Regions from separate parts of the Homo sapiens genome. Here all the other regions are linked to region 1. The links come from fine-mapping of genetic effects on gene expression. A gene starts in region 1. Each other region holds a variant in brackets. All regions are shown on one strand. Distances are from middle to middle.

What was found. PIP is the estimated chance that this variant, and not a neighbour inherited with it, causes the effect.
Region 2: its variant is fine-mapped to the expression of DHCR7-DT in testis (GTEx, PIP 0.96).
Region 3: its variant is fine-mapped to the expression of DHCR7-DT in whole blood (TOPMed, PIP above 0.99).

What each region holds. Positions count from the first base shown.
Region 1 is chr11:71,444,043-71,452,220 of GRCh38, forward strand. DHCR7-DT (DHCR7 divergent transcript) reads left to right here and starts at 4,486. Exons shown (of 2, transcript NR_186309.1): 1 at 4,486-4,843; 2 at 7,648-8,115. DHCR7 (7-dehydrocholesterol reductase) reads right to left here and starts at 4,351. Exons shown (of 9, transcript NM_001360.3): 1 at 4,248-4,351; 2 at 3,568-3,692; 3 at 813-916; 4 at 1-173. The coding sequence starts at 910. RefSeq lists a silencer at 4,018-4,657 and enhancers at 4,383-4,884, 7,830-7,879, 8,000-8,079.
Region 2 is chr11:70,673,377-70,681,554 of GRCh38, forward strand. The region is part of intron 15 of SHANK2 (SH3 and multiple ankyrin repeat domains 2); the gene reads right to left. Among named protein-coding and RNA genes, the nearest start is that of SHANK2-AS1, 51 kb to the left of the region's middle. RefSeq lists enhancers at 1-293, 7,008-7,771, 7,772-8,178. The variant C/A (reference allele first, on the strand shown) is at 4,569.
Region 3 is chr11:71,500,180-71,508,357 of GRCh38, forward strand. NADSYN1 (NAD synthetase 1) reads left to right here. Exons shown (of 21, transcript NM_018161.5): 21 at 1,123-1,637. The coding sequence ends at 1,173. It also overlaps the pseudogene S100A11P3. Among named protein-coding and RNA genes, the nearest start is that of KRTAP5-7, 23 kb to the right of the region's middle. RefSeq lists enhancers at 564-1,251, 5,192-5,782. The variant C/T (reference allele first, on the strand shown) is at 4,136.

The DNA of each region.
Region 1 (8,178 bases):
GTGGAGTCTTGGCCCAGATGTCCGAGAGCCGAGCATGTCCGGTGACGATGTCCACCACAGGGCCAGTCAGGGCGCAGCTGTACTGGTCACAAGCCATGATGAAGTAGTAGACGATGAAGGGGGCGAACAGCAGTAGGAAGATGACGCTCGCCAGTGAAAACCAGTCCACCTCCCTGCGAGGACGGATGCAGGCAGTCACACTGGGGCCCATCTGCCCTGGGCCCCACCAGGACCCTAAGAGGCTCTGTGTGGGAGAACTGTTGCTCAAACCCACCAGTACCCCATGACAGAAGGCATTAGCTCCTAGCACGGGCCCTCCTTGCGGCCAGGGAAGCCACTCAACATGCCTGCTCTACTGTAGTTGATTAACTGGTGGCACTATCTGTGGCCCCCATGGAAGGCCCAGAGCTCAGAATATGAGCGGAGGTAGGTCTTTCACAACCACCAAGGCCAGTGGTTTCCCCAGTTCCAGGTCGGAGAGGATACTCACCCTGCACGAAGTCCCCATGGTTCTATGGCGAAATGGGAGCTGTGACAATAGGTCATACCCCCAGATGGTGGGAAGGCCCCAGCTGCCCTTTAAGCCTTTATCTTTTTTTCTAAGTTGTTGACTGACCATGATTTCTAGTTTCTTTTTATAATTCCTTACTTTATAAAGTGGAAAACTGTTTACCTTTCATTAGTCTTGACAAAAAAAAAAAAATCTTTTTTAAAAAGGTCCTTCATTCCTTTGGGTCCATACAATTCCAAAGGCTGGAAAGCTCTGAGACCACACTTTACTTTCTAGCTGGGAGAACAGGCAAGATCCTTACCAGGCACGGCCCCACTGCCCTTGAGATGCGGTTCTGTCATTGGTGACGCCATCTAGACTCTTGGCTTTGGGAATGTTGGGTTGCGATTTTGCAGCCATTGGGCCCTGCAAGAAAGAGAACCTTGCTTACATTATCCCTCAAATAACAGACACCACCTTTCCCTGTTGCATCCACCACTGCTCCTGGGCCTGGCAGGGCTGGCCTCCTGTGCACATCTTCCCGGTACCTTGTTCCTGACAGCAGATTCCAGGCAGGGAAGAGATCATCTTGTCTTAGACTCTCTTCCTTGGACCCTGCAATCACCTCCCACGTGACCTTGCTATGGCTGCTCTTGCTAGTCTCAGTTCATTCTCCAAACATGGCAGAATGCCCCCCCTCTTACAGCACAAGCTGGCTCCTGCCTCCCTCCTACACACCACTCTCCCCTATTCTCCTTTGGCTCCAGGAACACAGGGGTCTTCACTCATCCTTGAACACAGTTTAAATTGTCTGTGGCACTGACTTCCTCTGCTTAGAGCACGTTTGCAGGTGTCCTTGTTCAGGGCTCATGTAAAATGTCCCCTCCTGGGGAGATCTTCCCTCTCAGCCAATCTGAAGCAGCTGCTCCCCAGCTTCCCTGCCAAGGCCCTCCACTGGGTACTTTATTTTCTTAGTAACTCTCCCCATCGCCTAGAAGTATTCATTTGTGTGTGTGTATTGTCTGTCTCCCCTCACTAGAATGTAAGCTTCCCAAGGGCAGGAATTGTGTGTCCTCTTCATTGTTCTACTACCAGGGCCTAGAACAGTGGCCCATGTAGGACCATCAATAATCACCCTTCAAAAAAAAGGGGAAGAGAACACAGAATGTCTCTAGGTACCCACAGCTGCTCTACATGGTTATAATTTGGGGGAAGCAGTGACATCCCCACTTCCAGAACAAGTTCATAACTGTGAAGCTTTAAAATATCTGAGATTTTTTAAAAGATGCTCTTGAAAGCTTTTAGAGAAAAAACAGGAGTAAAAATCACAGTAGGCTTAGATTTCTCAACAGCAAGCTGGATTCTAGAAGACAATGATGAAAAACTTCAAAATTTTGAGGAAAACTTTTTGCAACCTAGAATTCTACTCCTATGTGAACTATTACTCAAGGACAACAACATAGGATCCAGGAAACTGGAGACCCAAGAGAGCTGCTGAAGCCATGTCCACAAAAGGGCAGGGGCAAGTCCCAAGAGGACAGCTATGCAGCAGGACTAACCAGAAACCAGTCCACATTGGTACAAGATGAATGGCTAGGAAAGAGAGGAAATGAAAATGATGAATTTTGTTGCATCTGAATGTGTAGGAAAATTATTGATATATGTGACAGCTCGGTTAGAGCATCCAGAAAAAAATGAATGAGAGATGCATAGAAACCTTACCAAATGAAAAAAAAAAAAAAAAAAAAAGGAAGGCAACTGTTAACTCCAGGAAAAATAAAAAGTCATATAAGGAAGGAAAAAAAGAAACCAAGCCATTATTATAGGACCTTACTTGGCTCAACAGTGAATAATGGTAATTTTGTCATAACAATGTATACTCTGACTATTTATTGACTATTGTATGCACAGAAGGGAATTTGCAAAGTTAGGGGTACTAAAAGGAAATTACTTAGAAACAAGTAGGTACAAACAACAACACAAAAGTAGCTGAAAGAATGAAAAGTGTTTGCTGCTGGCAAGCAAGACTGTCGGATGTGGGATGTGGTAGAGAGTATTTCTTCTGAAGCCTTTTAACACTGATTTTTAAAAAAATGTGTGCATGAATTACTTTAATAAAAATTCACACACATTTAAAAAATTTCAACGATGAAAGACATTTTCCTTATGCAGTGTGAGAACTTCAGTACCCGCACTTCATTCAATTTACACAAGTTAGTTTATGCAGTTCCTATGATGCACAAAACAAGACGAAGAGTTCTTGATAGGAAGAGACCGTGTCTCTCTCCGGCCCCAAATACTGAATACAGAGCCTGGCGAGTGCCAGTCACTCTCCTTATATCTGTAAAATCAAAGTGGATGAAAGAAAACTACTTCTGAGAAAAGCTGACACGCTAGTGAGTCTGATCTCAAGATCACAGCCACCTGGACAAGCTGGCTTGCTTTAGACAGTTCCTCTCCCCCAGGCTCTCATCAAGGTAAGATACAAGCTTAGTTTCTTCCCAGCCAAAACTTACCAGCTCAGTGCCCCCACTCCCTCCGATCCCTAGTTCCCACACTGACTGGTGTTAATCCAGACCACCCACATGCACACTTGCCTTACAGGAAGGCTAAGTAGAATGGGGTGGCATTCGTCTTGCCCCAAGCCATGGATAAGCTACAAGGGGACAATGCCTGGTACCAACATTATCAATTATGTAAAACACTGGGAAATTGCAAAAGGGTCAGGGGATGTGTAACCTCAGAACTAAAGTGTGAAAAAGCCACTGGGAGAATGTTGTCAAAAGGGATTAAAACAAGACCAAAGAAGTACTTTTAGCTTATTACAGAGTTCATTCACCCAGGAGTCAGCTCTTTAGCCACAAGCATTGAGTTGTGCAATAAACATCTAAGTAACATCCTTCCCAATAGACGGCTGGGAACAGACAAAGGGGAGGTGCCCTGGTATGTTGTATTTTACTCATAAGAGGCACAGACAGTCGTTGGCACTCGAGAGCTGGTGGACCAGTCTGTCTGTACTTTCAACGCTGTGAAGCCATAGCCTGCGCCCACGATCCAGGGCACTGAGATACACTTACCTCCAGCCTCTTGCCAAATAGTTTCACAGCAGAAGGGAACTTTTCCTTCTTGAACCGGCCCCTTAAAAGTTTCTAGACACCTGTGCTCCAAATGCCTGCTTGATCCTTCTCAACCGGCTAAAGTCCTGCAAGGAACACAAAAATGAATAAGACCGCAGGCAGCTGACATTTCAGGAGAGGGCAGAAGCTCAAGGCCCACAGTAGGAGTCAAGCAAGAGGCAGAAGGTCCAGTGCTCAGGGCTTCAACAGCCGCATGTCAGGGAGGACGGCGGACAAGCCAGTCCCATCGCAAAGCTGCTGTGCCTGGCTCAGCACTGACAAAGAGGGAGGCGAACAACAGGTGGGGCAGGAGAAAGAGCCGCCGCGGAGCGCGGCATGGGGCCAGGAGCCGACCCCGGAGCCAGGCAGCCTTCGCCCGGGGAAGCTCCAGACAGCGCGGGGACAGAGCATCCCTCAGACGCCGGCTCGTGGGGGAGGGGGACTATCCACGCCTCCGCCCCGCCTCCCCGGAGCCCCAGCGGCCCCTCGCCTGTGAGCTGGACCCTCTCCCCACCTGCGCGCACGCCCCCTACCCCTGACCCCACCCTCGCCCTGTGAGTGGGCACCTGCTCACCTGGGCAAGCGCCCCCCACTGCGCACACCTTCCCCTGGCCTCACCTGCGCACACCTTGGCCACTCACCTGCGCACACCTCGGCCCCTCACCTGCGCCCACCTTCCCCTGGCCTCGCTTGCGCGCGCTGCTCCACGCCGCCTACCCTCTAGCCAGGGGTCGGAGTCACCCGCAGGGCAGGGGCGCCCGCCCCCGGATGATGTCAGCGATTGCCTGCCAATCGGAGGCGGACCCTGCACGCCCGGCGGCTCCGCGCCCCGTGATTGGTCGAGGAGCCTGAGCTGACTCCGGGCCCACCGCGCCCGCCATTCGGCAGCGGCCGGACTCGAGATTGACGGCCCAGGCCCCGCCCTGCCGCCCCACCGGCCCGCCCGGGCCCTAGTGGGTGGGCGCAGCCTCTGGCGCTTCTTCGGGATCCCAGCTGACCAGCTGGGGGTGGGGCGTGGCGGAGTGGCCACGTGGGCCGCGCGGAGAACGCGCCAGGCTCATCACCTGGATCATCGTGCCTCAGTTTCCCCCTCGGCAAATGGGGCTTCAGCGGCTCGCGACGCACATTGATGGAGCGTATGTCCAGGCGCCGGTGCACCGCAAGGAGCAAAACAGACACAGTTCTTGGTCCTAGGGCTCACGTCCCGGGGCGAAGAGGATCCTCCATAAACGATCAGGTAAACACATGGGTGTCAGGGAAGGCTCGCCGCTGGGAGACCGCCAAAGTGACCCGAGATGGAGTCTGGGTGGCCTGCTTATTAGGGGGGCACACCTGTGCGAGGACGGGAGGGGAGGGAGCAGCAGGACTGGGCAAAGGGAGAAGCTGAGCCACAGTGCGAGCCGGACGCACGGGCCACGTTGCGAGGGCATGACCTGGGGCGAGGCAGCCCTGGAGGAGGGGGCAGCTGAAGGTGTCTGCTGACCCCACACCCAACAGCTCGGGTAACAGGCCTTACTGTCAGAGCGATCTGGTTGCCACGTCTCTGTGGCCCTCAGAGAGACATCATGTTTTCTTTTTTCCCTGCACCTTTTTGTTTTGAAAAATGTTCAGCATACAAACAAGTTGAACGTAAAGTGAGCACGCAGATTCCTAGGTTCAGCAGGGGTGAGCAGCTGGCCACGTTTCATTTCTCTCCCTCTGTGTTTATATATGTGTATTTTTCTTTTTTCCTCCCCACTCAGCCCCCACCATTAGCTGCAGATACCGTGATACCCCCCTCCCAAATACTTCGGTATCCAACTCCTTAAGAACAAGAACCTCCTATATTACCAAAATACAATGACCACATCAGTTCAATGCTGTTATCTATTTTCCATCTCCAGTTTCCCGCGGTTGTCCCAATAATGCCCTTTACAGCCCTTTTGTTATTGTTGTTTTGTTTTGCTTTGTTAAGACGGGGGTCTCTGTCACACAGGCTGGAGTGTAGTGGCACGATCACAGCTCACTGCAGCCTTGAACTGCTGGGCTCAAGCGATTCTCTTCCCTCACCCTCCTGAGTAGCTGGGACTACAAGAGCACACCACCACACGCTATTTTTTTTTTGGTAGAGATGGGTGGGGGGGGGGGTCTCACTATGTTCCCCAAGCTGGTCTCGAACTCCTGGGCTCAAGCGATCCACCCACTGTGGCCTCCTACAGTGCTGGGACTACAGGTGTGAAGCTCTGCCCTACAGCCCTTTTTTAAACCCCAGGATCTAATCAGGGAGCCACACTGTGCATTCAGGCTATGCACTTTTTTTGGCAGGATAATATACTACATAGAGCATGTTTTATCTTGTTAGAAGGCTGTCAACCTGAAATAACCAAACAGGTCAGAATTTAGCTTAAAGAGAGTTTATTTAAGTGTATAAAGTTTGAGGACAGGCTGCCTGGGAAGCACAGATTTTAAAGAATGGAAATCAGTATTTTGAACTGTAGATGTTTGGGATCATTTATGTAGACAAATTTTAGGGAAGTTTAACAGAATTTTAACATCTTTTTATGCATAAAGTTATAATCTGACCAGCTGAGGTGGTCTTTTTTAGGTGGAAGGTATATTTAACATTTTACACTGAAGATGTAGGAGTCTGGTCTAAGTACGGGATAATAAGAGACAATCTATAATAAAGATCAGTAATTAAAAGGGGAGCAGGCCTGGTCTGTGGTCTCTCCTAGTCATTTATAAAACATGAATGATAAAGAAAAACAGCCTATAATCTAAAAGACAAAATTACAAACATGCTATGTGACCCAGTTTCTAGGACTTAACTTCCCTCTTGACATAATAAATTTATTTATTTTTATTTATTTATTTAAAGACAGGATCTTGCTCTGTTGCCCAAGTTGACCTAATAAATTTCAAGAGTCCTAAAATTTTCTTTTTTAAGACAACATATCACTGTGCTCCATGATTGATAGTGGGGCTCCGTGGTTTCTGCCAGAAGTCTCCATTTTTCCTTTTGTTATTAATGAGTAATTGGTGCAGTGATACTTTGAGACTGTAAATATGCTGTTCCCAAATGACCTTTCACCCAGTGAACTAGCATTTAATGAGGAATCTTGCCTGAATCCCTTATTTCTTGGGACAAAGTGTTAATTTTCTAATTTTATCATTCCCTCAACATTTATTAATAAATTATTTATTAGCAAGCATTCTTCTGTAGGGATTTCCTCTTTGATTTATTTTTTATCAGTATGCCCTAATGGATTTAGCTGACCGAGTTATGATCCTTACTGTATTGTCCTGTATTTAGCTAACGGGAGCCCCTTCAAATTGGCTTCTTTTTTCATATGACATGTATCTACCATCCTTTGAGTACTTACTTATTTTCTGGGACAACCAGATGTTCAAGGATCCTCCCCTTCTCTGCCCAGGCCTGGCATCAGCCATTGTTGGCAGGAGATAATTTGAGCAGATCGTGTGGATTTCAGAAGCATGAAAACTACTGTGAGGATTAAATAAGTTAGCATGTATAACATTCTGGTGCTTTTGTGGAGTTTCCAAATTGTCATGAACAAGCACTACTTTATAGACAGGAAAAAAAGTGATTCAAAATGTGAAAACGGGTATATGTACATAAGGTAAAAATAAAATCCTAAGCCCCCCATTGACCAAAGGGACCTTCTCCTGACCAAGGGGACACCAGAAAAACCTCAACACTGAATTCCCAGACATGATGGGATGGGAGGTCAGATGCGCCTGGTAATAGCCCCCTGTTTCAGAGTTTGGACACCACAACTGGCCGGCATTCATGTTAAAACAGAGATCGTAAGACTGACAGAACGGACTCTGTGGCAATAAGATACCAAATTATAAACAGGACCCAAAGCCATGCTAGGCGAGGGTAAGTCAGGCAACCCACACTTAGAGAATAAACTATATTCTAAGAGCCACAAGGCTTTCTGTTTCTCTATTAGCCAAACACACACTAGCCTTGGGATAGGGAATATTAAAACAATTGCAGCTCCACTAGGTGCCAACTAACTGACTCTGTTTCACCAGCCATAGCAGCTGTGATTGGACAAGAGACTGATTTCAGTGACTTTCTCCTAATAAGAGACCACCGACCAGCTGACCATGCCGACCAGCTGACCCGTTAATAGAGAGAGATGATGCACCTGCATGCCTTTGTGTCCTGAAAAGACGTTTTGCCATAAAGGCCCTAATTGTAAGATGTGTAAATGTTAAGTCTCCACCCCAAAGTGAACATGGGTCATATATTACATGCTTTGCTCAATAAGAGGGCATGTGTCAGGACCACCTTCATGAATATTCATAGCTCCTCCTGTTACCTGTTGAATATGTATGTTTAGCCAATCCCTTCAGCATAGCGCTCCTGCCCCAACCCCTCCTCCTTGGACGTGCCTGTCTCTGGCCTTGGCTGGAGACAGATTCCCAGCCTCAGACAGATGGCCGCCACCTTGCAGGCTACGACCGTTTACAAGAAATAAAGCCTTCTCTTTTTCCAAATTTGTGAATTGTGTGTTTTTAAACTAACATGAATGACAGAAGGAAGGATGGCCTCTTCAAGCA
Region 2 (8,178 bases), 770 kb before region 1:
TCATTCGTTAATTAAAATGACAGGCCAAGCCTGCCCCATCTGTCTGTCTCAAAGCTCGCCCACAAAGACCATGCTGGCGGGCCATGGGACAGGCCACAGGGGTCTCCTTGTGAGGCAAGTTCCCAAGTCCCTCTGGTGGGGGTGGGGAGTAGATGGCCCCACAGCTACAAAACCAGAAATGTCCTCCTCTCCCGGGAACCAGACTCAGTGTGACAGTCACCTGATGTCCTGGGCTTTGTAGGGAAGGCTGATTCTAGGGCTGGGGGCCCACCTGCAGCCCGTGGTCCCCCCACCAGGATCACCTGCCCAACCTGGATGGCACAGAGCTGTTGAGTGGGAGGCCATGAGAAACCCAGGCCAGGCCCATGCCGGAGGAGAAGGCCACTGCTGCCGTCCACCCCTGGCCACCAACCTCCCTCCACTCACTAGGGCCACTGAAAAGTTTGCTTCTCTTCCAAGTGCTGATGCTTCATTAAGAGACTGGTGTCACCAGAGGGGCAGTTGTAAAAACAGTTAAAAGTAGGAGGCTCATATAATTTGGCTATCTGTCCCCTCCAAATCCCATGGTGAAATTTGATCCCAATGTTGTTGGTGGGGCCTGGTGGGAGCTGTTTGGGTTATGGGAGTGGATTCCTCATGAATGGCTTGGTTCCATTCTCCCGGGGCTGAGAGAGTTCTTACTCCTAGTTCCCACAAGATCTGATTGTTAAACAGAGTCTGGCACTTTCCTCTTCTCTCTCTTTCCTCCTCTCTTGCCATGTGATGCCAGCTCCCCTTAGCCTTCCGCCATGAGTGGAAGCTTCCTGAAGCTCTCACCAGAAGCAGATGCTGGCACCATGCTTCCTGGGCAGCCTGCAGAACTGTGAGCCAAAGAAACCTCTTTTCTTTATCAATTACCCAGGCTCAGGCATCCATTACTGCAATGCAGCTGAACTAAGATAGAGGCTGACACATTGTAATGGGAAGTATTTTAATGATGTCCCCTTTTTTTTTTTTGAGACGGAGTTTTGCTCTTTTTACTTGCCAGCTTGGCATGATCTTGGCTCACTGCAACCTCCAACTCCCAGGTTCAAGTGATTCTCTGACCTCAGCCTCCCAAGTAGCTGTAATTATGGGAGCCCGCCACCAGGCCTGTCTACTTTTTGTATTTTTAGTACAGACGGGGTTTTGCCATGTTGGCCAGGCTGGTCTCGAACTCCTGACCTCAGGTAATTGGCCTGCCTCGGCCTCCCAAAGTGTTGGGATTAGAGGCGTGAGCCACAATGTCCAGCCAATGATGTCCTTTGGAAGGGGTTCTGCAAATGTTCTAGACCAGGCAACGGCCCAGAGAGTGAACATTCCAGGCTTTGAGGGTGGATGGGTGGTCCCTGTTGCAACTACTCACTCTGCTAGTTGTGGCACAGAGGCAGCCATGACAATATGTAAATGATGGGTGGGGCTGTGTTCCAATAAAACTTTATTTACAAAAACAGGCAATGGGCCAGATTTGGCCTGTGGGCTGCAGTTTCTAAAGATAGGCTCTAAATATTCTAACGACATTTAAGTCCACACAAATAATACATGTACATGGCATATAACTATGTATAATAAAAACTAAGAAAAGTCTCAATCTTGCTGCAGAAGCCATGCTGACATTACTGTGTACAGGTGTGCCTGGCTTGATGTAACACCTGAGCTCTGGAAAAGAGGCAAGGAGAACGCGTTTTAGAAATGAGATCATCTGTGAGATGCCTGAGAGGTTCAGAAGGATCACATGGGGAGTACTTTCTGGAAAACAAAGAAACACCTCTTTACTTTGTCTAGGTTTTTATGCTCTGGTTGGCTCCAAGTGGGGATAGACCTGAATTCTGGCTTAATGAGTAATAATTCATAATTAGAGTAATTAGTGTAATTATTATGCTACGGCCTTTGAGCACCTTCCACACACCAGGCGTTGTTCTAAGTGTTCTGTGGGTTTAACTAATTGAATCCTCATAATGACCGTATGAGGCAGGAGCTGTGATGACGCTCACTTTACAGGGGAGCAAATAAAGCAGAGAGGTTGAGTGATTTGCACCAGAACACAGGGCTGGAGGCAAAGCCAGGCTGTCTGAACCACTGTGGGTTACTGAACGATAGTGATACTGAAGCACTGTTGATTCCTGGCCAGGTGGGGGCCAGTTCCCCGACAGCTCACAGCCCTCCCAACCCAGACAATGACAGAGAGAAAGGAAAGAACCCTCAGGGGAGGCGTTGGTCCTAGCAGCATGTTCTGGAGAAAGAACTGGAGAAGGAATTGGTGATTTACTGTCCTGCCAGTATCTGAGCTGCTGGGAGGGCACCCTGGGATGCTCTGAGAAGATTTTGCCAGGAGATCCTGCTCTGTATCAAAAAATTTGAAATTGGAAATGGTGGACCAAATGCTGGGCTGGGTAATGCCAGGGAGGAAGGACACGGTGGGGTGAGCAAGGCCAAAGGCAAAGCAAGGCCCCACACCTAAAAATGGGTGCAGGAACATCTGGATAAACGTTTACAGTTCACACCCCATGCTGGTTATGGCTGTGTTTTATGATTCCCATCTCAATGAACTGGCAATGTGTCAGAAGACAAGGCATCTCCTGGGCACAGCAGGTGTGTGCTGGTCTGTGGTTCACACTTTTACTCCCACCTACAACACTCTATACCTGCTATCTCTATCAGTTGAACTCCTATTCATTCTTCAAAGCGCACTGCAATAGCCACCACTTCCAAGAGGACCTTAATGCTGTCCCTCACGTGACACTGTGTGCTTAGAGGGAGGGGACTAAGTCTTCTTTCTCCACCACACCCAGCTCCTGTCACAGACTCTGGCACTCTTCCCAGCTTGCTGCCTGCTGCAGCGACTGGAAAAGCCAGACACTTGCTATTGCAGCCTTTCCTGCAGTTATGGATGGTCATGACCCTATGGAATAGTTTTGGCCAAGGAGACCCAAGGCCAAGCGGACCCGAGGTCTGCTGGGACCTCTGGGAAAGGCTGGACTATTTGGAAAGGGAGTGGGGGTTGGGGAACTGCTCCCTGGCACCCCCTCCTTTACGTTCCTGAGTAGGACGTGCTATGGGGACATCATACTTGGAGCTATGGCTGCCATCTTGCCACCATGAGGGAGAGGCCAAGAGGCCTTCAGAGATGTCACTGCCCGTGCAATGGATGCTAGCTGTGCCCTCCTCTGGACTCGCCATTGTGGTCTCAGCCACTGTGAGTGAGGTTTTTTATTACTTGCAGCCAAATGCTTTCTAATGAACATAATGTGAATATTTGGAGCTTGGAGTGAGGGGGCAGGGTAGTTATTAATTAGAAGATACGGGCAAAACACTGGGATGGCTTCCTGACAACTTAAGAGGTCTCCGAGTTATATTCTGGGTTGGGAAACACTGACCCAGCCCTTATTCCTTCAAGGACTCTAGTCATTGGCAAGGAGGATTCATGAGCCCCAGTGACACAGATGGGGGCCCTGCTCTATATTCAACTGTCCAGAGAAGATCTAGTCACAACCCCTCATCTCAAATGAACTTTGGTTCAGAAAACAGAACTAAGGAAAAGTGGTTTCCTTGGACTCAACCGGTCTGAATTTCCCACTAACCACAACACTGACTTCCTGAGCAAGCTGGCTAATCCCACGTATACAGGCAATTACTTGTACATCACAGGGCTGGGGACAACACACACCAAGGCTGAGAAATCTCTAAAAAGCCAAGTGAAGTAAAGGGAGACAGAGTTTAGGTACAGAGGGGAACTTAGCAACGGAGTGGATCAGAAGATACAGCCAAGGCCCACGGTCTGGTCTGGACCTGATGAGTGGATGTCTGAGGCCAGACGCTGCCTCTGCTAATGGGTCCCTCTGCTAGACCTGAGGACCAGCCTGTCCACAGACTGGGCTTCCAGACACCCCAGACAAGCCACACAGTTGCAAAGTCTTTGTCATTCAATGCATCCAGCTGAGCGGCCAACATCCTCCTCCTGGATTCAGCACGTGGTGCCGAGTCTCCTCTATCCTTTAAGTGTTCCTAGAACCCGGGCCACCACCCACGATTCTGAAAATTAGCCTCGCTCGAATGAAACCCTGCCTTCCCTCTGACCTTCCATGACACCACTGATGCCCTGTCTTTGTGACCGGACCCTTGGCCACAGCATGGGGGCTGAAGCGTCTCCCAATGAGGTAAAGGTAAGGCTGGTTGCCCCTGGACAACCCTGCTCATTGCACCCACCCAAGGAAGTCCACCATTAATATGACCACGTCCACTGCTGAGATGACCTCCAAGAAGCGGGCAGGCAGGGAACCCTCAGAGCACCAGGTCCAACACAGCACGTCCCACCAGAAGCCCTGTTGAGGGCTCCGGAAGCCAGGCTCCCCCTGAGCCCGAGATGCCCACTCCCTCTCACACTGCTCTGCACTCGACCACCAAAGCCAGGGTCCTTGCGTACCCATTTCCCAGATGTGTGCAAACTTCTCGCTGAGGAAGACACATCTTAAGAACGAGCTGCTTGTCCCAGTTGTAGGCTCGCTCCTTCTTTTTGCAGAAGGTTCCAGCCCTCTGTTCCCTTCCACCAT[C/A]TCCACTGGCATCCTCACTGCCATTTCCCATGGTGTCCAGTTCATTTATTTTGTTAGGGGGCCCCCTCCAAAGACAAAAGACAACCCCTTGCACCAATTTTCCCAGGTCTTCAGCCCCAGCCAGTTTCTCACTTTAAATCTTCCCCATTCTCCAGGACTTCCTGATTTCCTTCTCATTTTCCTTCTTGTTCTTTTGTTGTGTTGTTGTTTGTTTGTTTTTGAAACAGAGTCTCACTCTGTCACCCAGGCTGGAGTGCAGTGGCACGATCTTGGCTCACTGCAACCTTCACCTCCTGGGCTCAAGCAATTCTTCTGCCTCGGCCTCCTGGGTGGGAATACAGGCATGCGCCACCAGGCCCAGCTAATTTTTGTAGAGATGGGGTCTCGCTTTGTTGCCCAGGCTGGTCTCAAACTCCAGGGCTCAAGGAATCCTGATGCCTCAGCCTCCCAAGGTGCTGGGATTCCAGGCATGAGCCACCACGCCCAGCCTCCTGCCTGTTCTTTATTAAAGCTGGAGTTATCTGTCCTGCCTCTCCCTGCCTCTCCCTGCCTCTCGACCTGCTCATTTCCAGTCTGCTAAGAACAGGCTTTTTTTTTTTTTTTTTTTTTTTGAGATGGAGTCTTGCTCTATCACCCAGGCTGGAGAGCAGTGCAGTGGTGTGATCTCAGCTCACTGCAACCTCCACCTCCCGGGTTCAAGTGATTCTCCAGCCTCAGCCTCCCAAGTAGCTGGGACTATAGGTGTGCACCACCACACCCAGCTAATTTTTGTATTTTTAGTAGAGACAGGGTTTCACCATGTTGGCCAGGTTGGTCTCAAATTCCTGACCTTGTGATCCGCCCGCCTCGGCCTCCTGAAGTGCTAGGATTACAGGCATGACCCACTGCGCCCAGCCCAGAACTGGTATTTTTCTAACTGCGAACTGTTTGGTCCATGCCCCTGACCCCAAGTCCAGGCTGCACAGGTATTCATTTGCCTTGACATACATCCTCCAGATATCCCCAGGTTACCTCCAAGCTCCAACACACTCACTCTCCTTAGCCAGGGGATCTCAGCATGCTCGCTAGGACAACCTTCCTCCCCCGCCCTCACATGACTGGGAAGAAGAAGACACCAGGCCCGTAACAGGTGACGGCACGGGGTCATCCGTGCAAATGCAGGTAGTAAAACACGGCTGACCGCAACGCTGGGCTCTGGCAGGCCGGGTACGCACACCATGCCAAGCCCCATGGGGAGCCCCTGCCCTCATTCTCTCTCTCACACAACACACTGTGGAGGGAGGCACCATTTTCTTTCCCATTTTACAAACAAGGAAGCTGCGGCTCAGAAAGGTCCAGTGAGGAGCTCAAGGTCACACAGCTGGCAAATGGCGGAGCTGGGCATCCAACCCCCGAGGCCAACTGCAGAGCCTGTTCCCACCACCAGCAGCCAGCCAGCCCCCTTTTGAGGAGCAGGGCAGGCCTATCCCCGGACCATCAGGGAGGTGGGAGATCTCCCTGCACCCTCGGCCCCCTCTTTTGGGGTGTGCACCTGCCTGGGGCAGTCCCTCTGTGCCTGGCAGCAGCGGAGGCTTCCAGCCATCAGCTGTCTCCCCATGACCAGTACAAAGGGCTGTGTCCCATTCCCCTGTGCTGGGGAGAAGTGGGTCAGGGCTGGGCCTGGGTCCTGCCGAGGAACAGAGGGCACCTCCACTGAACGGGAGGCTTGGGAGGCCCGGTGCCATCTGTCGTGCTGACTATACGCCCCAGGGCCTGGAACGGTGTCTGGCGCATTTTGGGGTATCATGAGGATGTCTGTGGCCTGAGCAACAGAGGCCACCGCTGCCCGCTGCCACACCCCAGCCAGGCCCTCTGGCCCATGGAGTGACAACTAGAACCGGTGCCCCTCCCTCGGGACCCTGGACGTCCACCTGCCAACAGTTGTGTGATCCATTCCCAAATCCACAGAGCCCAGGGTGACTGTGGCCTTTGGGGCTGCACAGTCCCTTCCCAGACCCCTGTGATCACTGTGACTGGAAATGACTTGGGGTCCCACGGAGGCCGACGGGTGGGACAGGGGTCGGTGGAGCAGGCAGCATGCAGTCTGCACAGTCTGAGAGAGGCGGCATTTCCTGTCCTTTTCTACTGCATGTCTTGGCCCTGGGGAAGGGAGCAGAACTCCTGCAGCCTCGGTTTCTCCATCTGTAACGTGGGGCCATCGCACCCCATCCCAGGGAGTTACACACTCACAGCTAATGTCGGCCAAAACAGCCTCTGTCAGAGCGGGTTCTCAACCTCTTCAGTCTATGCATTGAATGCTTGCAAGCACTCTGTGAGTGTCCTGTGACGGCTGTAACAACGTAACACAAACTTGGCAGCTAGACACATTTAGCCTCTTACAGTTCTGGGGGTCCGAGGTCTCACTGGGCTAAGACTGAGGTGTTGGAGGGCGGGCTCCCCACCCAGGCTCCAGAGGAGGGGCTGCTTGTGTTCTCTGGTTTCTAGTGGCCACCACGTTCCCTGACCCATGATCATTCCTCAGATCACTCCAGCCTCCGCTCCCATCGTCCCAGCTCCCCACTCTCTGCCTCTGACCCCCTGCCCTCTGATGAGGATCCCTGTGATGGCACAGGGCCCACCTGCATTCGCCAGGACCATCTCCTAATCCACCACCAGCTGATTAGCTGACAAGTCCCCCTCTGAAGCTTCATTCCCCTTGGCCGGGTGAAGTCACACACTCACAGGCCCCAGGGGTTAGGACATGGATGTCTCTGGGCTCCACAGTTCACTTGGCCATGCCACCCCAGCCTCTCTCTCTTTCCCTGGTGAGGCTCAAGGTGGATGAGGCTTTAATATGGAGTGGGGGTGTTTTCAACAATCTTTCGCAGATTGTGGGCTGACTCATCCAACTGCAGGCACCGTCCTCCTTGTGGGGACTCTCAACAGGATGCAGGCACACCTCAGATTGGGCACCAGCAAGCAAGCAGGCAGGTCCTGCGGCCGAGATACTCCCACACTCTTCCTAGTAAATCACACTCTCCCTGGGTGTGAACCATCCCCGTCAATGCTCAGACCACAGGCCAGTACCCACTTAAAAGGCAACTGGCTCTGGGGTGCTGGTGGCCCAGCTGACAGGTGCCCTGACTTGCAGGAGGACTCAGAGGACACTGGCTGCTCGGGGATGCCTCTGCATCTGTGCCTTGGGGCTGCCGGCACCTGCTGGGAGGGTCCTGCCTCTTGAAGCACACAGCGGCACCGGCTCTGCCAAGTCCCCCGTTCTCTCTCTGCTGCTCAGCGTGGGGTCCCTTTTCTCTTGGCAAAGTCTGACGGCGGAAACCCCCTGAATAAACAGCTCCTGCACAGAGATGTTTCTCCGCGGCTCAGGATTCGCACTGGAGGAGAATTCAGAAGTCCAAGCCCATCATTTGATGCTGCCAAATTTCCGCCAGCCTCAGCGGTAACCTTCTCTGGCAAGGTTAAAGGGTCTATCAGATTCCCGGCCCAGAAACTAATTAGATAAAGAGGAAACCTGGGCCCCCTGGGGTATCTCCTCAAAGGCCGAAAGGTGCACATCCACCACATCCACCCCACCATGCCCAGAAATGGGACCCACCAGCGGCACTGCCTCAGC
Region 3 (8,178 bases), 56 kb after region 1:
CTGTATGACCACAGAGTAGTAACCTTCTAATCAGGAAGATGTCTTGAACTCTTCCTTAAGGACATGAGGAAAACCCGCCTGTGCTGAGCTAGAGGCCACAAGATGCCGCTTTATACCTCATGATCGGTGACAGCATCTCTGAGCAGGTGGCCTGTAAAACGAGGGTGGATCAGTGGCAGGGGTTCTACATCTGGGACCGTTGACCCCCCGAGGAGACATTAGGCGATGACTGGAGATGATTTTGGTTATCATGACTGGGCTGGGGTCTGTGCTCCCAGCATCCCGTGGGTGGAGCCCAGGGATGCTGCTGAATGTCCTACTGTGTGCAGGATGGGCCCCTCCCAACCCCACACCCAGCAGAGAATTCTTTGTTCCACGTGTTGGTGGTGCCAAGGTTGAGGAATGCTGAACATTTGGGACTAGAAGACGTTTGGGGCTGCATGGTTGTAAGGAAGAGATACTGTATCTGGCTGATTTCCGTGGAAAGGAACTTGCTCAAAGAGTGACTTAGAGGGTGGAAGGGAGGGCAGGGGTCACAGGGTCTGGAAAGCTGGGACTCAGGCCAGGTGGCTGCTGCCCTATATCCCCTGCTGTGGCTGGACGGAGCCCACACGCCACACCCAGCCTGGGCTGGATGCCAATCTGCTCTGCCATCCCTGAGTCCCAGTGTCCCTGGGTCACCAGGCAGTGGAGTGGCCAAGCCTCGGGTGATGGGCCCTGTCATCTGGCCACCCAGGGCAGGAGAGGGAGCTGCCCCAGCTCTGGCCTCTGTAGTGGGAGGTGGGGGCTTGGCTCCCACCAAGATGTACTCAGGGGCGGGCTCCCCCAGATCAGGAAGGGGGTTCAGACACTATGCAGCCAAAAGAGTGACGCATGTGGGAGCATCAGAGACAGCTGCAGGTAAAGGTGGAGACGCTGCTGTCATCTGCAGTGACAGCTATGCGTGATCTGGACCCGCCCCTCCAGGCTTTTCCAGCACACACGCCCAGCATCTGGTGGGGACTCTGGTAATTTACTTTTTCACCTCTGGGACTTGTGACCCGCTTTTGGTGCGTGCCAGTGTTTCAACAGCCCCACAGTCCGTCTTTGCGGGGCTGTGGTGTCACAGGCCTCTCTTTCCAGGTGCTACAGCTCGAGAGGGCAGAGCCACAGTCCCTGGACGGCGTGGACTGAGGCCGGTTCCTTCCTGGAGGCCTCCTGTCCTCGGGGACCCCAGCACCTCATCATCAGCATTGCTGGAGCCAAGGGTAGGAGCCCTACACTAGGAGCCCAGGATGGGACGGCGCATCAGCCGAGAGGGAGGGAACTTTTCAGTCAAATTCCTCAAAAAGAGGCTGGAATAAAGCCTGGGCTTAAAAAGAGGCTGGAATCCAATGCACATGATTTTGACCTCCCGCCAGCGTGCGCTTCCCCGCGAAGTCTGGCATTCTCCGAAGGAAGCCGCCTGGGTAGGAGGGTTCCAACCGCCGCCCCGTGTGGCATCTTTGCTGCAGGAACAAGAACAGTAGCTCCCGGGAAGGGAGGGGTGTCATGAGCAGAAAATGAAGGAGAGAAGACCTTCTCTCCCACCCACACACACCTTCCTGTCCTGGGTTCCAGAAGGTTCTGGGGAGATGGTCCCTGCAGAGCTTTCTTCCTGGGAGTCTGGGGACCAGTCGGCCTTACTCCTGTCCTGTGGGAGAACCACCCCATCTAGGCATGGGGCCAGGTGTGGGGCAGGGGCGTGGCACTGTGGGTCCCCCTTCCTGCTGATCTTCATGCCATTCTGGGCACCTTTGTCTCTTTATGGAATGGGGTGAGGAGCGGCTTTTCTGTCCTCTCCAGAGCTCCCCTTGGTCCTGGAACCCTCTCTCCCGGGTTGCCCCAGGGAGTCTCAGCCTCCCATCCTTGCAGGGTGAAGATGAGACGAAGATGGGTGCACAGGCCAGAGCCTCCAGGGGAGTGGAGTGGGTTTGGGATCTGTGCTGCCCACCGGGTGTCCGCTCTTTCTCTCCCCCATGTCTGGCCCCTCTGCCTGGGACACTCCTGCTTCCCAGCCTCACCTAGAGCCCCACACCAAACCCAGGGCCCGGGCTGGGACACAGACCACAGCTGAGGGTGAATTTCCCAGGAGGTGCTGTCGGGATAGCAGAAAGTGGGGGACACTCGGCAGGTGCTGTCTGGATAGTAGAAAGTGGGGGGCACTCGGCAGGTGCTGTCTGGATAGTAGAAAGTGGGGAGCACTCGGCAGGTGCTGTCGAGATAGTAGAGAGTGGGGGCACTCGGCAGGTGCTCTCTGGATAGCAGAAAGTGGGGGGCACTCGGCAGGTACTGTCGGGATAGTAGAGAGTGGGGGACACTCAGCAGGTGCTGTCTGGATAGCAGAAAGTGGGGGGCACTCGGCAGGTGCTGTTGGGATAGTAGAAAGTGGGGGGCACTCAGCAGGTGCTGTTGTGATAGAGAGTGGGGGGCACTCGGCAGGTGCTGTCTGGATAGTAGAAAGTGGGGGGCACTCGGCAGGTGCTGTCGGGATAGTAGAGAGTGGGGGGCACTCGGCAGGTGCTGTCTGGATAGTAGAAAGTGGGGGGGGGGCACTCGGCAGGTGCTGTTGGGATAGTAGAAAGTGGGGGGCACTCGGCAGGTGCTGTCGGGATAGTAGAGAGTGGGGGGCACTCGGCAGGTGCTGTCTGGATAGTAGAAAGTGGCGGGCACTCGGCAGGTGCTGTTGGGATAGTAGAAAGTGGGGGGCACTCAGCAGGTGCTGTTGGGATAGTAGAAAGTAGGGGGCACTCAGCAGGTGCTGTCGGGATAGCAGAAAGTGGGGGGCACCCGGCAGGTGCTGTCGGGATAGTAGAGAGTGGGGGGCACTCGGCAGGTGCTGTCAGGCGGAGTGGTCACCACCGTTGTTGTCTTCTCCGTCACTTCCTCCAGAGTCTGTTACCCACGTCACATCGTGGATGCCCCCTGCCCGGATAGGTCTGAGTGCACTGGGGTGGCCGGCACCCCACACCTTCTCAGGGAGCACCCAGCAGGATACCTGAGATTCTCCTTAGGCCTTGGATGGGAGCTGGAGGCTTCTGGCTGCCTCCTGCACCCCAGATGTGTGGCAACGGGGTGGGGAGTGTGTCACCCGAAAGATGATCAGGTGAGGCTGGGACCCTGAAGGCAGCCCCATCCTGTGGAATTACCCTCGGAGGCTCCAAAACTTCCCACCTGCAGGAACTGAGCTCAGGGGCACCAGACCCTGGTCCCCAACCTTCAAGTTATAGGGTGGTGTCCCCCAGTTACAGGGCAGTGTCCCCAGTTACAGGATACTGTCCCTCAGTCATAGGTTAGTATCTTCTGGTTACAGGATAGCATCCCGTCAGTTACAGGGCAGTGTCCCCCCAGTCATAGCATAGTGTATCCCCAAGTTACAGGGTAGTGTCCCCAGTTATAAGGCAATGTTCCCCCATTATAGTGTCCCCAGTTATGAGGTAATGTCTCCCAGTTACAGGGTAATGTCCCCCAGTTATAGGGTGATGTCCCCACAGTTATAGGGTGATGTCCCCACAGTTATAGGGTGATGTCCCCACAGTTACAGGTGAATGTCCCCCCAGTTATAGGGTGATGTCCCCCAGTTATAGGTGAATGTCTCCCCAGTTATAGGGTAAGTCCCCACAGTTATAGGGTGACGTCCATCAGTTATAGGGCAATGTCTCCCCAGTTACTGGGCTGTGTCCCCCAATTACAGGGCAATGTCCCCTCATAGTGTCTCCCAGTTATACAGTATTGTCCCCCCATTATAAGGTAGTATCCCCAGTTACTAGATAGTGTCCCCCAGTAACAGGATAATGTCCCCCAATTGCAGGGCAATGTCCCCCATTATAGTGTCCCCAAGTTATAAGCTGGAGTCCCCCAGTAACAGGATAATAGGATAGTGTTCCCCAGTACAGGGCAGTGTCCCCAGTTACTCACTAGTGTCCCCTAGTAACAGGGCAGTGTCCACCCAGATACAGCCTAGTGTCCCTCAGTTACACAATAGTGTGTCCCCCAGTGGTAGGACAGTCTACTACTGAGTCCTCCTGGCATGAGTCGAGCTGAGATTAGGATAGGGTAATGACCCTTCAGTTTTGGGGAAGGGACCAGAGCTCGGCCAGTGAGAAGCTTCCAGCTC[C/T]GTCTGGCCATATCCAGGCTGCTGAGGGTCCTGGGCTCTGTCCTTAAACCTCATCACTGACATGACCCAGCAAACCTCCTCAAGAGGAAAAAGTCCCCTTGGGTCAAACACAGCTTGTGCAGTTCTCGGGGACCTCCTCCTGCCATCCTGGGGATGCTGTGGAGAATGGAGATGCACAGGGGGCTTTGTCCTCTCCTCTGCCTTTTGGAGAAAATATTTCACTCAAGGCAAACGCAGCCTGAGGGCAGCACAGGGGACCCCAAGGCTCACTGCGCATTTCTAGTCGCCCCCAAACGCGTGGGTTTTCCTCCTGTTCTCCTCGTGGGTGCCTTTGCTCATTCTCATCCTCCTGTTCTCATCCAGTCTGCCCAGTCTGACCGGCTCCCAGCAGCATCCGCCCAAAAGTTTCTCCCATGACAGCAGGAAGCAGCCTCAGACAATACATGATGGACAGGCCTGGCTGTGTTCCAATAGAACCCCGAGTCAGTCAGCCCGAGCCTCCCTCTCAGCTGGATACTGTTAATGACAGGGGTACACATTCCCCTCCCCTTTCCAATGTTTTAAAACTCTAGGACAGTGATTCTCAAACACTTTGGTCTCAAAACCCCTAAGAGCATTTGCTTATGTGGCTTTTATCTGTTGATAGTTGCTACCTGAGAAATTAAAACTGAGAAATCTAAAAATAGATTTATTTTAGGAAGTCACTAAAAATAATAAGCCCATTGCATGTTAACATGAAATAGCATATTTTTACAAAAAAATAAATTTTCTAAAAACAAAACATCTAAGTGAGAAGAGTGGCATTGTTGTACTTGTTTTGCAAATCTTTTCAGTGTCCGGTTTATGAGATGACAGCACTTTGGTTTGTTGCCAACCATTCACTTATAAAGAAACCCTTTTCCAATAATTAGCTGGGGCTGGTGCTAGAGCAATACCAGAAGTTCAGCGATGTCTGTAGATTTGTCCAAATGTATGTGAAGAGACTGTGTTTACTCAGTTTTTATGTTTGCAGTTAAATCTTCAATTTGATGAGTTATTTTATCATTGCAAAGTGGCAGTGTCAGGGTTTCCTTTATTGACTTATCCAGCAGGCATTCAGCTATATCAACTCTACATATGAAGTAAGGAGTTGAATTAAGCAGAGTAGTTAATAAAAAGCTTTTTTTTTTCATGTTTTAAAAATGTGACGTTGTCAGGCCTCTGAGCCCAAGCTAAGCCATCATGTCCTCTGTAACCTGCACGTACACATCCAGATGGCCGGTTCCTGCCTTAACTGATGACATTCCACCACAAAAGAAGTGAAAATGGCCTGTTCCTGCCTTAACTGATGACACTATCTTGTGAAATTCCTTCTCCTGGCTCATCCTGGCTCAAAAGCTCCCCTACTGAGCACCTTGTGACCTCCACTCCTGTCTGCCAGAGAACAACCCCCCTTTGACTGTAATTTTCCTTTACCTACCCAAATCTTATAAAACGGCCCCACCCCTATCTCCTTTCGCTGACTCTTTTCAGACTCAGCCCGCCTGCACCCAGGTGAAATAAACAGCCTTGTTGCTCACACAAAGCCTGTTTGGTGGTCTCTTCACACCGATGCGAGTGAAAACTGTTTTATTTCTACCCGCAGGCGGGGCCTGCCAGAGGAGGTAGGTGTGCTGGGCTCAGGGGACGTGTGGGCTGTGAGGAGGAGATGGTGACAGGAAGCTGGAAGGAAAGGGGGTGGCTTTGGAGGCCAGGCCGAAGGGGCCCTCAGGTCTGCTTGTAGGGTGGGATAGCCTTGAGGAGGGAGTCATGGCAATGCACAGCCAGGCTGCCAATTTTGAATTAAGAAATTCTTGGAAATCTAGCTGCCTGTTACTGTTGACATCCAGTCTTTTCGTCATGCAGTCAAGGACACTGCGGTCCTTCTGCTTCTTTGTGACGGCAGCCTCTTCTGTGTTCATGAAGCTTAGGAACTCCGTCTTGGAGAGAGCAGTTGTAACCATCCTCTCCAGGATCCTTCTGGAAAACAGCAATCAGGGACTCAATGCACCACTCAGTCTCTGCAGGGCTGGAGATTTTTGCCAGGTTGTAGCTGAGTGAGGCATGGGAGGCTGTACTTGGGAGTGGTGTGGAGACCTCTGGTAAAAAGCTTTTGAAAAGGATGATTCTATTCCATTAGGATTGGCTTATATGAGGGGAAAAATAGGATTGTATATAGTTAAAGAAAAAACAATTCATTGGCCCATGTCAGATCTAACAAATCAAAACACATGGAAGCTGTGGCGTCCTAATCAGGGAAAAGGAGCCAGGGTGGCAGGACCAAGGGAAAGCAAAAAGAGAAAGCAGATAAGCTACAAGTCTGCATTTCTTCACAGTCCAGCACACACAGCCCTCCTGTGCATATAGCTCACAATCTTCCCATGCCCAGGTATCACCAGACCCTCAGCTGATAGAAAAATGCAAGTTAGCTCACTGCAACCTTGGCATTGTAGGTATTGTATGCAGCCCTCTTCAGCACATGGCCCAGGAACCATCCTGTAAAATCCCCTGCAAGCCTTTGTCTCCTTGCAGTCAGCTCCTCTTCTCCTGGCCTGCCCATTGCCTTCTTGCAATGTACTTCCTTCCTTTCTTTAATAAATCTGCCTTTTTTTAAAACCTACAAGTTTCTTGGTAAACTCTTTTACCCCTGTGACACCAGCCTCAGATAGTCGCCATCACCCACCATAGAAGCTACTCCTGGAGAGCTGATTATTTTTAATTTGCAGATAATTTATTCGTGTATTTTTCAAATACGTATTGCGACTCCTCTTCTGGTTCTGATGGAACAGCTCATATTTGAGCTACAGAATCACTGAGAACAAGTAGGAAAGCCAGAAAAAATTAACACAAAACAGCAGTTGAAAGCACTAGAGAGAAACCCAGGTGTCCAGGACAGGAGGTGCCTGGATCCTGGTGAGAAGGGAAATGAATGCATCAGGTGCCAGCGCTCCACTCTCCTCCCGTGGGGCCTCTGCCCATTCGTTAGCGACAGAGAGAACAAGAGCACAAGCAGAAAGCAGCTGAGGCATTGGCAGTTCCTTCCGAAAATCAGACTTTAGGGTGACAAAGGCAGCCAGAGCTTGCAGGGCAAAGCTTCCAGGGAAAAGAAGAGCTCAGAGAAGTGAGTCCAGTGTGCAGCAGCTCCTCTTCCCTTGAAGATTATGAAACTGCCTGGGGAAAGAGGACAAGGAGCTAAGCAAAAAGCATCCATGAAGAGCCTTTAAAGCAAAACAGAGATTATGGAGGTTTTGTAGCTCTGGAAAATAAATATTTAATTTTAGGATTAATAAGAAAGGGCTTGGTAAAAACTTAAGGCTTTCTATTGAAACCCCTCAAGACTATATACTGGGAGAAGTACAGGCCAGAAATAGAGACTCCTTCACAAAGAATAAAGCCTGGCCTCTTATCTTACTGCCTCACTGGATCAATGTGATCTGCTGCTTGTCTAACTGTTTCGCAGAAGGAAAACAAATGGTCTCTGCAAGAAAGTAACATCACTCAAAACCTTTCTCAGTTTTTTATACTCTTTATCTGGTATTCAATAAAAGATCACTAGGAACTCTATAAAAATATACTTAAAATGTAATATAAATCATAATACATACAAAGCTATAAAAATATATTCAAAATATCAAACCCAACATAAGCAGAAGAAGAAAAAAATCCAGATAAGAACAGAAATCAGTGAAATTAGAGACAAAAAATAGAGAAAATAAATGAGACAAAAATCTAGTTCTTTAAAAAAAATCAGTAAAATTAACAAACCTCTTGCTAGACCAACAAAGAAAAAAAAGAGAGGATACAAGGATACAAACTATAAGCTTCAGGAATGGATACCAAGTTTGGGGATATCACTACAGACCCCACAGACATGAACCGGATAATGAGCAAACGGTGCAAGCAACTCTACACATAGAAATTCAACAGCTTATGTGAAGCAGACCAACTCCTCAAAAAGCACAAACTACCAACATTCAGCCAGGACAAAATAGATAATTTGGATAGCTCTATAATTATTAGGGGAA